Linked DNA regions of Homo sapiens: region 2 is linked to region 1. Evidence: fine-mapped expression QTL. A gene starts in region 1. The other region holds a variant in brackets. All regions are shown on one strand. Distances are between the middles of the regions. Region 1 holds the start of EXOSC5 (exosome component 5). Region 2 holds the start of ERFL (ETS repressor factor like).

What was found.
Region 2: its variant is fine-mapped to the expression of EXOSC5 in lymphoblastoid cells (GTEx, PIP above 0.99).

What each region holds. Positions count from the first base shown.
Region 1 is chr19:41,394,600-41,399,854 of GRCh38, forward strand. EXOSC5 (exosome component 5) reads right to left here and starts at 2,760. Exons shown (of 6, transcript NM_020158.4): 1 at 2,582-2,760. The coding sequence starts at 2,729. It overlaps BCKDHA (branched chain keto acid dehydrogenase E1 subunit alpha), which reads left to right and starts at 3,219. Exons shown (of 9, transcript NM_000709.4): 1 at 3,219-3,336. The coding sequence starts at 3,229. RefSeq lists a silencer at 2,683-2,971 and enhancers at 2,730-3,402, 2,968-3,247, 3,403-4,074.
Region 2 is chr19:41,923,341-41,928,814 of GRCh38, forward strand. ERFL (ETS repressor factor like) reads right to left here and starts at 5,109. Exons shown (of 6, transcript NM_001365103.2): 1 at 4,700-5,109. It also overlaps a transcript of ARHGEF1 not described here. RefSeq lists a silencer at 5,055-5,234. The variant G/C (reference allele first, on the strand shown) is at 3,350.

The sequences.
Region 1 (5,255 bases):
CTCCGCCTCCCAGGCTCAAGTGATTCTTGTACCTCAACCTCCAGAGTAGCTGAGATTACAGGTGCGTGCTACCACATCCGACTAATTTTTGTATTTTTAGTAGAGATGGGTTTTCACCATGTTGGCCAATCTGGTCTCAGAACTCCTGACCTCAACCAAGCGAGGTGGCTCACGCCTGTAATCCCAGCACTGTGGGAGGCTGAGGCAGGTGGATCACAGGGTCAGGAGTTCAAGATCAGCCTGGCCAACATGGTGAAACCCCGTCTCTACTAAAAACCACAAAAATTAGCCGGGCGCGGTGGCACGCACCTGTGGTCCCAGCTACTCAGGAGGCTGAGGCAGAAGAATTGCTTGAACCCGGGAGGTGGAGGGTGCAGTGAGCCACGATCACTTCACTGCACTCCAGCCTGGGCGACAGGGCGAGACTCCATCTCAAAAAAAAAAAAAGAAAAAAAAAAAAAGAACTCCTGACCTCAGAGGCCTCCCAAAGTGCTGGGATTACCGCTGTGAGCAACTGCACCCGGCCTCTTCTTAATTCTTACGTTCGAAGAAACTTTAGGTATCTCAATTCAGCATAAGCGCTAAGCCTGAGGGAGGGCCTGGGAAGGTCCTTGGTTAAGGCCGTATTTCCTGGGAAGCCCAATTTGCCCTTACACGGAAGGTATGCTTAGTTCCAGGAGAAACTGCCCTGAGGACTGGAGAAGTTACCAAAACAGAACTTGCCTCTGGCTCCAGATGAACTGCCTGTGTTTTGCCCGAGCACAAGAGTCTCTCCCCTCTCACCTTCTTGAAGACGTGGCTCCAGCAATTCTCTCCCCTGTTGACCCCACAACAATCTACAACTCCTGCCCCACTTATCTGATCCTCTTACAGCAGAACTCCTGAACAGCTGCCTCTTCTTCCTTTTCTGTGACCCCACCACTCCATTGCGGCAGCTCAACATCGTCACCACTGACCTCCAAATGATCAACCCTCCCATGACCCGGCTGTCAGTAAGGCTGAAACAGCTGGTCAGCCCTCACATCTCAGACATGCTCTTTTCTTGGCCCCAGGTCACCACCATCTCCTGGTTTCCCCCTAACTCTCTGGGCGTTCCTTCTGAGTCTCCTTTGCTAGCTTGTCACATGTCTCTGACTGCTCAAGTTGGAAGGCCTAGGGCTTGGTCCTGGGACCTCTTCTCTTTTCCATCTACACTCACTTCGTTCAGGCAATAGCCTGAAATACCATCTATATAGCCAGAGAGTTCCAAATTGCCTATGTCCAGCTTGGGTCTCTCTTCTGATTTCCAGACTTGTACAGATCTGGGCAGAAACCTTAGTTATGCCTGAATCTTTTTCCTCGCACTCAAACCAAACTATACGTAAGTTTTGTCCGTATTACTTTCAAACTACATCCAGAATCTCATCACCTCCACTACTCCTGCTCTGGCTGGAGCCACCATCACCTCCCTGTTTTCCCCCATACTCCCCACAATCAACACAGCAGCCAAATTTTGTTAAAATGTATTGGGGCTGGGCGTGGTGGCTCATACCTGTATGAGCACTTTGGGAGGAGGATTGCTTGAGCCCAGGAGTTCAAGACCAACCTGGGTGACATCGTGAGACGCTGTCTCAATTTTTTTTTTTTTTGAGACAGAGTCTTGCTTTGTCGCTCACGCTGGAGTACAATGGCACGATCTCGGCCCACTGCAACTTCTGCCTCCCAGGTTCAAGTGATTGTCCTGCCTCAGCCTCCCGAGTAGCTGGGATTACAGGCGCCCGCCACCATGCCTGGCTAGTTTTTGTATTTTTAGTAGAGACAGGGTTTCGCCATGTTGGCCAGGCTGGTCTCGAACTCCTGACCTCAGGTGAGCCACAGGTCTTGGCCTCCCAAAGTGTGGGGATTACAGGCGTGAGCCACCGCCCCCGGCCTCCCGTCTCAAACGTTAAAGAGAAATATTCTTGGAGTTAATCTACTTCTGAGAGTTATTTAGCTAGGAAAAGGGGATATTTGCTCTATAGGTAAGACTTGCCCTAATCTTTTTTTTTTTTTTTTTTTTGACTTGCCCTAATCTTAGGGATATTTACTTGTGTGGAGAGATGCAGTGAGGTAGCGGTGGGGATGTATTTCTCAACCCAGCGCAATGACATTATCTTCAATTTGAGGAGTATTTACGTGGGTGAAAGATCCGCCACAGTCCACAGTATGCAAATAGACAGGTTTGCTTCAGTCCGGGATGCAAGGACCTAGAGGGTGTGTGTGTGGGGGGTGGGGGTGGGAGGGTGGAGGAGGAATCGAGTTAAGGGGGATATTTACCCTGGCGAGGTGATTTTCCCTATTCTGAAATATCAATTCTTGGGCGGACAGTCTGCCCCTCCTCTCATTCTCAGAGATAGTTACAAAGATGGAACTATCTTCTCCTTTCTAGTCGTGAGGGAGAGATGTGTGTATCCCTGCGTATTTAGTAGTATTCAATCGGACAAGAAATCATGCATCAACGCAGGAGTGACATTTACCAGCTGGTATCGTGAGGAGGTGGGCACTCGGTTGCACAGTACACGGTAGTCCCTCTCCAAAAGAAAGACCTGGGTGAAGTTCTTACCTTGCAGGAAGGAAGCAGAGCCATCTGGCCGCGACAGCAGGTTCTGTTCGCAGGCAAAGTGCCGGAGGCTGCAGCCAGGACCCCGAGGGCTGGACCCTGTTCCATTTTCAGCACGGATTTTGGCGTCAGTATGCGTCTCCTCCTCCATCGCGCCGAGCCCACGTGCGGCTGCAGTTGTCACTTCCGCCTGGCAGCGCGCGCCGCAAACAGGCTGCGTAACCAGTGCGCACGCGCCGGGCTGGGCCATCCTCCTGGGCGTCCGCACGTGGCTTAGCGTTTACCAACAATCTGGCTCCGCCCAGTCCCACCTCCTAACTCTGGCAACGCCATTGGACATTTGGGAACAGAAGGCAGGCCTTGGCATTGATCCGCTTTACTCTGGGCCCCCGGGCCCTAAATCCCTGAGGCCCTGGTCAGGTTGCCCTCTTCTTTGCCTGTTACAGGAGTAACTACAATGAGGCGATTGGAGAAAATTTTGGGTAGATAGATTTTTTTTTCTCCAAATCTCTGTGCATTCTATCTACCACAGAACGGGAAGAAGATGGTTTTCTTGTCAGATGGTGCTGGAGTTTGCGTCAGGCACATAAAGAGGCAGCCCCGAATCTAGCCTACGTGAGTGCCGGACCGCTGAGTGGTTGTTAGCCAAGATGGCGGTAGCGATCGCTGCAGCGAGGGTCTGGCGGCTAAACCGTGGTTTGAGCCAGGCTGCCCTCCTGCTGCTGCGGCAGCCTGGGGCTCGGGGACTGGCTAGATCTGTGAGTACCTGGGCCCCAGGCGGTTTTCCCAAAGGGGATTAGGGATGTAAAGGCTATCTTCAGAGTGTGGGGTCCCTGAAGGATATGAAGGAAGGGCTGTCACAAAAGGGAAAAAGAGTGGGAGACTCCTTGGAGAAGACACCGAAGGGAAGATCTGCCACTTCCTTAGGAGACGAAAAGAACTTCCACTTCTTTAGGAGAGGAAAAAACCCGTTTGCAACTTCTTTGTGGGCCCTGAGGGAGACGACTTGAAGAGAGAGATGGGGGTTCCTTATTAGCTGCCACTGGTATTCAGGGGAGGCTCCTTGGAGGAACAGGGGAAGACCGCAAGACCTTCTCCCTCAGGGTTTGGAGAATGAAACTGACTTTGTAAGGGAGGGACTTTCTTCTGGGCAAAGATCCCTCTTCAAGAAGAAGAAAGAAGAGAACAGGTCCCTGTCACAGGCTGCATAGGGCCTTGTATTTCTTTGCTCCTTTGCCACAATTCTGATTTTAAAATGAATTGTGTAAAAAATTTGTTTGATTCCTGTGTCTCTTGATCGAATATCAAGACAGAGAATTCGTGTGTTCTGGACACTGTACAGAGGAGACGATTAATATTTGTTGAATTAATGAGGGGAAAAAAGGAGGGAGAGAGGTACAGACAGGGCACTTTGCCCACATTTCTTAGAAACACTTGAGAAGGCTTTGTTTCTTGTCAAAAGGGTCACAATCCCTTCAGGTGGATGCTGCTAAGGGCAAGATTACACTGCAAAAAACCTAGGTGGAAGCCTATCTTTAGACGGGGAGAGGCAATGGGTTGCAGAAGAGCTTTGAACTACAGTTGACAGATAGGAGAGTAGTGGTTACATGGGTGGATGCATGTCCTTGCTCTGCCGCTTTCCACTTGTGTAGCCTTGGCCAACGGACTGCACTTCTCTGGATCTATGGAGCTAATTTTCCTCTCTAAAATATTAACAGTGGCCACCTCATAGGGCTGTGAAAAATCAATATGTAAAATGCTAAGGACTGGACCTGGCACATCCTAAGGGCAATAGGAATGTTGATAGTGAGGGTGGAGGGAAGGGACAGAAACTAACCTTGGAGATGGGGAGAAGAAAGGGGTGACCTTGGGAAGGCCTGGATTGGTGAGGCCCTGGGGAAAAAAATCTGAAAAGATATTGTGAGGTTGAGTCTGATCCTCTGATCCCCAATCCATAAGGAGGGGAAGATGGAATCTGTAGAAAGAAGCTCTGGGTAGGGGAACAAACGGGAGGAGGGTGAAGAAGATGGGCCAGGAGTAGGACGTAGTAGGTATCTAGGAACGGAGTCACTTGAAACAGGTAAATACAGAAGGGCTGCAGGAGCAAGGTGTGGGTAGGGCAGTCTCTTGCCTTTGGGCTGGAGACCTTTTCACTTTTTTTTTTTTTTTTTTTTTTGAGCAGTTCATATCCTCCACAGCTGATCTCAGTCCCAGGGGCCCATTGGCTGGGCAAGTGGGGCAGGAGGTGGGCAGGACTGGGGCAGGCTAGGGAAAGGTCATTTATGGCTGATTAAATCTTTCTCTCCTGTCTCAATCTCTTGATTACCTTTCCTCTTGCTTCCCCTACTTCATTTTTGGTGGGGAGTGGGGAGGGAAGAAGTCCCTACTTTTTATTTATATATATTTAAATTTGTATTATCTTAAGAGTTATTGTTTTTTCCCCTTTATTTCTCCCACCTGTTCTTTCTCTCTTCTTCTTTCTTTCCTCTCCTTCTCCTCTCCTCTCCTCCCCTCTCCTTTTTCTTTTCTTTTCTTTTTCCCTTTCCTTTCCTTTCCTTTTCTCTTCTCTTTTCTCTCTCTCTTTCTTTCTGTACCTCTCTTTCCTTTTTCTTTTTTTTTCTTTTTTGAGACAGAGTTTCACTCTCTCGCCTAGGCTGGAGTGCAGCAGCATGATCTT
Region 2 (5,474 bases), 530 kb after region 1:
AGGATATGGAGAAACTGAGAGAGAGTCAGAGAGCTGTAAAGACCCTGTATGGAGAAAAACAGACACAGACAAAGACAACCAGAGAAATACAGAGAACAAAGAGAGACTGGGAGACAGACAGACAGAGACAAAAAGACAGGGTGAGACAGAGGAGTCGAGAGGCCAGAAACCAAGAGAGACAGAGAGACTCAGAATTAAGACAGGCAGACATGGACAGGGACAAGGAGACAGGGGCAGGTGGTGGCAAAGGTGGAAATGGAGAAAGGAAATGAAAGTGAGGGTGGGTGGAAAGGAAAGGCCAGCATGCAGGGAGGGGCGGTGTGGGAGGCAGGAGTGTGTCTGGGGAGGCAGGGGTGTGCTGGGAGGGGGCTGTGCTGGGGGGGTGTCTGGGGAGGCGGAGGTGTGCTGGGACGGGGCTGTGCTGGGGGTGTGTCTGGGGAGGTGGGGGTGGATCTGGGGAGGCGGGGGTGTGTTGGGAGGGAGCTGTGCTGGGGGGGTGTCTGGGGAGGCAGGGGTGTGCTGGGAGGGGGCTGTGCTGGGGGGTGGTAGGGGTGCGCTGGGAGGGGCTGTGCTGGGGGTGTGTGTGGGGAGGTAGGGGTATGCTGGGAGGGGGCTGTGCTGGGGGGAGGTAGGGGTGCGCTGGGAGGGGGCTGTGCTGGGGGTGTGTCTGGGGAGGTGGGGGTGCTCTGGGAGGGGGCTGTGCTGGCCCCAAACAGCTTGTGGGGGAGGTGGGGGTGAGCATGTGGAATGACAGCCTTAGCCCCAGGAGTCAATGAAGGGTGAGAAAGTGAGCCTGGAGAGTAGGGGAGATGGGGTTGGGAGGTAATGGAGAAGCAAGTGTCACCAAAGTCCCTAGGTGGATAGGTGTGTCTGTGGAGGGAGGAGGTCACCTGAGGGGCAGATGAGGGAGGTAAGGACACCTGGATGGCTAGGAGGGCAGTCTCTGAAGTCAGACAGCCTTGACTTGACTCAAATCTCTAACATCTACCTGTTTCTGGGACCTCAAAGAAACTCTCTGGACTCAGTTTCCTTCTCTGTAAAATGGGGACAAGAGGCAAGTACGTGCCTCATGAGGGTCCTGTGAGGACAAATGAGACAATGGGTGTGAAGAACTTGGTGTCTGTCACAGAGATGGATGGTGGTCTTAGTAATCGGGAGCTGTCATCACCATCACCCTCACCTTTATCCTCATTCTCGTTGTCGCCATCAGTATATATGGGGAGGGTAGGTGTTATGTGGTGGAACAGGTGGGGCACACATTACAAGCACCTGCTACTCAGAGAATGATACCTGGACCAGGTGTTTCTGATGCACATTGAAGTCAGATAACCTCGGACTTAAGATGCTGTGCAGTGCGGGGAGCAGGTGTGGGGGTGGCTGGGAACAGGCGACACATGTGTCTAACACATGCTACAGGTGTTATGCACGTGGAGGAAGGCGCTCCTCGAGGAGAGAGCTGGTCAGAGACACGTGCTAGGAAAGGGGACCGGTGTTTCTGGAGAGAAGCAGGTTGGAGACAGGTGTGAGAGATCTGAAGGTTTCTTCCTAAAGGTGTGGTGGTGACAAGCTGCAGGGACAGGTATCAAAAGTGAACATAGCAGAGAATGGGGCAGAGGTGTGCAGTGGGTTCCCAATGCTTGCAAAAGGTGCAAAGGGACTCCGGTCACATGGATGTTTGGGGGGAGGAAAAGGAGAGAGGTGGCTGGAGTGTGGGGAACCAGGTGCATGTCTGTGGGACAGGGCTGTTTTCAGGAGGTGACCCCTAGACCCAGCTGAAGAGATGTGAAGCAAAGAGAGATTAAGTGGGGGTATGCATAGTGGGTGTCGAAGCCTCGGTATCTGTTTGCTGATTAAATGATTTGAATGTGTTACCAGGGCAGAGGATTCCCTGGGATAAACAGGTGAGGAATGGCAGGTGCAGGGGGTTACTGGTGTGACCTTGTGCAGCAAGAGAGAGAGAGAAACATGGGAAATTAGGTATGTGGGAAAGAAGAGAAGTGGATAGAGAGTACCTGAGGGACAGGTGTGGGAAAACAGGTATACAGGTGACGCAGATACCTGTGGCCAAGGACAGACTCCTGCCCCAAACGTGTGTGTGTAAAGTAATGTTGTGTATAGTGAGAGACAGTGAGAGACCAGGAGAGGCAAAGACAGTGCAAGAAGGAGTGAGACACAGGTGAGCAAGTGTACAAGGGACCGGGAAACTCTGAGGGGACAAGAGCTTGGAGGAAGGCATAATGGCAGGGAAAGCCATGAGGAGGGTACTAGTGTGTGGATTGGTGATCAGGTGGTGCTTGGGGTTAGGACACAGGTGGGGAAGGTGCTTCTGTTGTCTGTGATGAGTAACCCGAAATGACAAGTAGGAAAGACAGGTACGGGGGAATCCTTGGAAGTCAGTGTACCTTGGAAGTCAGGTACAGGTAGAGAGGGATGTGAGCGACAGGTGTGCTCTTAGGTGACCTGTGTGTGGCCAGCTCTTCTGGAAGGGCAGGTGTTGGGGTGGTTAAGGAGGTGCAACACTGTCACGGAGGAGGATGGGTGAGGGCCAGGAGGCTGGGGACTGGTGGGGGCAGGCCTTACCTGAGGGGACAGGTTAGCAGGTTGCATGTGTGAGTGCTTGTGTGCAACAGAAGGAATGTGTGTGTGAGTGTGTGCATGTGTGGTGACTCGGTACTGCTTGAGAGGAGGAAGAGGTGAAGAAATACGAATGTGTGAGGAACAGGTGAGTTTGCAGCTTTAGGGGACAGGTGGGATGGCTCACGTACAGGTAGGAAGGGGCCAGTGTGACATGAAATGAGATAAAATGCAGGGATTCCAGTGGAAGGGGCAGATTTTAGAGAACAGGTATTACCTGGAGGGGCAGGTAAGAGGGGACGTATGCTCCCCGAGAGACCAGACATCTTAAGGGCAGGTGTGAGGGGGACAAGTGTTACCTGGAGGGGCAGGTGAGAGGAAATAGGTGTTACCTCCAGGGCAGATGAAGGGAACAGGTATGGAGGACAGGTGTTGCGTGCAGGCAGGTATGAGGAGATAGATGTTACCTGGAAGTCCAGATTTGGGGAGTTGAAGGGGGAACATGGATGTGACAGGTGCATTGATAGACAGGTGTGAAAGGTTAGTTACCTGAGGCCACAGGTGGGTGCAGTGTGACTCTGCCAGATGGTCTGCCACCTCGATTTCTCTCGCTCCCCTGTCCTCCCCTCCCTGGGGAGCCAGTTCTGGCTCTCGGGTCCCTCCCGTGGCTCTGGCCCTGGGTGGGGCACAGAGTTAGCTCTGGGCTAGGCGAGGCCTGGCCTGCTGGCCTGCCGGGCAGCCAGGGCCCCTGAGGCTGCTTGGCGATGCGGAGCGC[G/C]TCTGGGCCGCGGCGGCCGGCCGGGAGGGGGGAGCGGGCGGGGGGGCCGTTTAGCCGTGATAGATCCGCGCGCCGCTTGTCTCTTAATCTCCAGAGCGACCGATCGATTCGCTATTTCCCTTTGTTGCCAGAAAATTCGATCCTGGGCCTGGAATTAGGTCCCCGGCTTAATCTGAGCGGAAACCAGCGAGGGGGAGACAGAGACAGAGATGCTGGGAGAGACAGAGACAGAGAGACAGTAAGAGACAGAAAGAGGCAGAGAGAGAGAGATAGAAAGAGATGCCGAGAAAGGAAGAGAGAGAGATAGATGCCGAGAAAGGAAGAGACACAGGGAGAGATAAGCACAGAGATTTAGAGAGAGATAGTCTTAAGAGTTGGACCCAAAAAGGAAGAGAGAGATGCTGTGAGAGACAGAGATAGAGAGACAGATCCTGGGAGAGTTAGAGGTGGACACAGAGATGCTGTGAGAGACAGAGACAGAGAGACAGTGAGGAGAGACCCAGCCAGGGGAGAGATAACAGAAGTGGCCCAGCAGGGCCCTGCGACAGTGGTGGAATGATAGAAAGGGTGTCCCAGAGGGCCCCGGCCCCACGAAGGTCAGGGCCAGGCCTGTACTCCTTGCCCCGAAGTGTGCAGACCCCAGAATTGGCCCAAATGTCCTTCCCACAGACCCTGTGACCCCTCATACCAAATATCCAGACCCCAGATATCCAGATCCAAATTCGCAGACCCTTAGCTTTGAACTCCAACTCCAAATCCAGACTTCTGGCCCCCTCAAGTCCAAACTCCTATGCTGATCCCCAGTCCCAGATATCCACACCCCCAGTCCTGACTCCCAGCCCCAGTCAGCTCCCAACCTCAGATATCTAGATCTTCCGCCCCAAGTGTCCAGTCTCTTGGCTTTGAGCCCCTAGGTCCCAAATATGCAAGCCCTCAGCCCTGACCTCTAAACCCCACTCAGAATCTAGCCCCAAATATCCAGACTCCTCAGCCCCAAACATCCAAATCCACCTTCAGGTCGGCCACCAACCCCCGTTCCCAGATTTTCAGTCCAGTCTCTTGCAGACCCCATCTCCGTGGCTCTCACTCGCTCTCCCTCCCCGCCCCCAAATCTCGCACCCCTGTCCCGAGGCCGCACCTCTAGCGCTACCCGCCTCCCACCTTCCCAGAGTTGGGCGCTGCCCCACCTGCCCCTTACAGCCGGGGCGGATGACCCCATCCGCCTACCCCTCCACCGGCTCGGAGGCCCAGCTTCTCAGGCCTCCCGGGACCACCCCCGCGCCCGCCCCCTCCTGGGGCGGGAATCCCCGCCCCCTCCCCGCCCCTGCGCCGGCCGCGGCGCTCACTCACTTTCTGGGCTTTTCGCATCCGCTCCGGTCCGGGGAGAAGTGTTTAAAGTTCGGATCCCGCAGCCATGGCCCCCGCGGCGTCCTGGGGAGGGGGCACCGGGGCGAGGGGCGGGGTGGGGGGAGATGCCCGGAGCCCCGGGGAGGCAGAGACCCAGAGGACGAGGAGAGGGAGTCTCTGAGACGCCGGGACAGGAGAGACTCAGAGACGGAGAGACAGCCAAGGAGACAGAGACGGGGAGACGAGCAGAGACGGGGAGATGCAGAGAGGGAGAGAGACAGCGAGATAGACGCGCAAAGAGAGCAGAGACGGGGAGAGCTGAGGACGGAGCTCCGGGCTGGAGCTCAGCACAGCGAGCGCGGGCGGGCGCGCGCCGGGGACAGCCTGGCCGGCTGGGGGCGCGGGGCGGCCCTGCCTCCTGCGCCTTCTCCTCTTCCTCCTCTTCCTCCTGCTCCTCCTCCTCCTCGTTCTCCTCCTCCTCCCTCCACTCCTCTGCGCGCCGCGCGCCTCCCGCCCTCGCGGCCGCCCGGCCGGGCTCGGCTCGCAGATATATGGAGGCGGCGGCGGCGGCGCGGGGGAGGGGGCGGGGGCGCGATCGATGGAATATAATTTTCCTCAAACTCGGAAAATAAAGTTCAGAGCTGATCAAATTTGAAAACAGATGTCGAATCGCGACTCTAAATAAGGTTCGATCCCGGGACTGAGGGAGTGGGGGTGGGGCGGGGGTGGGTGGAGAGGTGGAGAGACCCCCCTCCTCTCCCCTTCCCTTCTCCTCCGC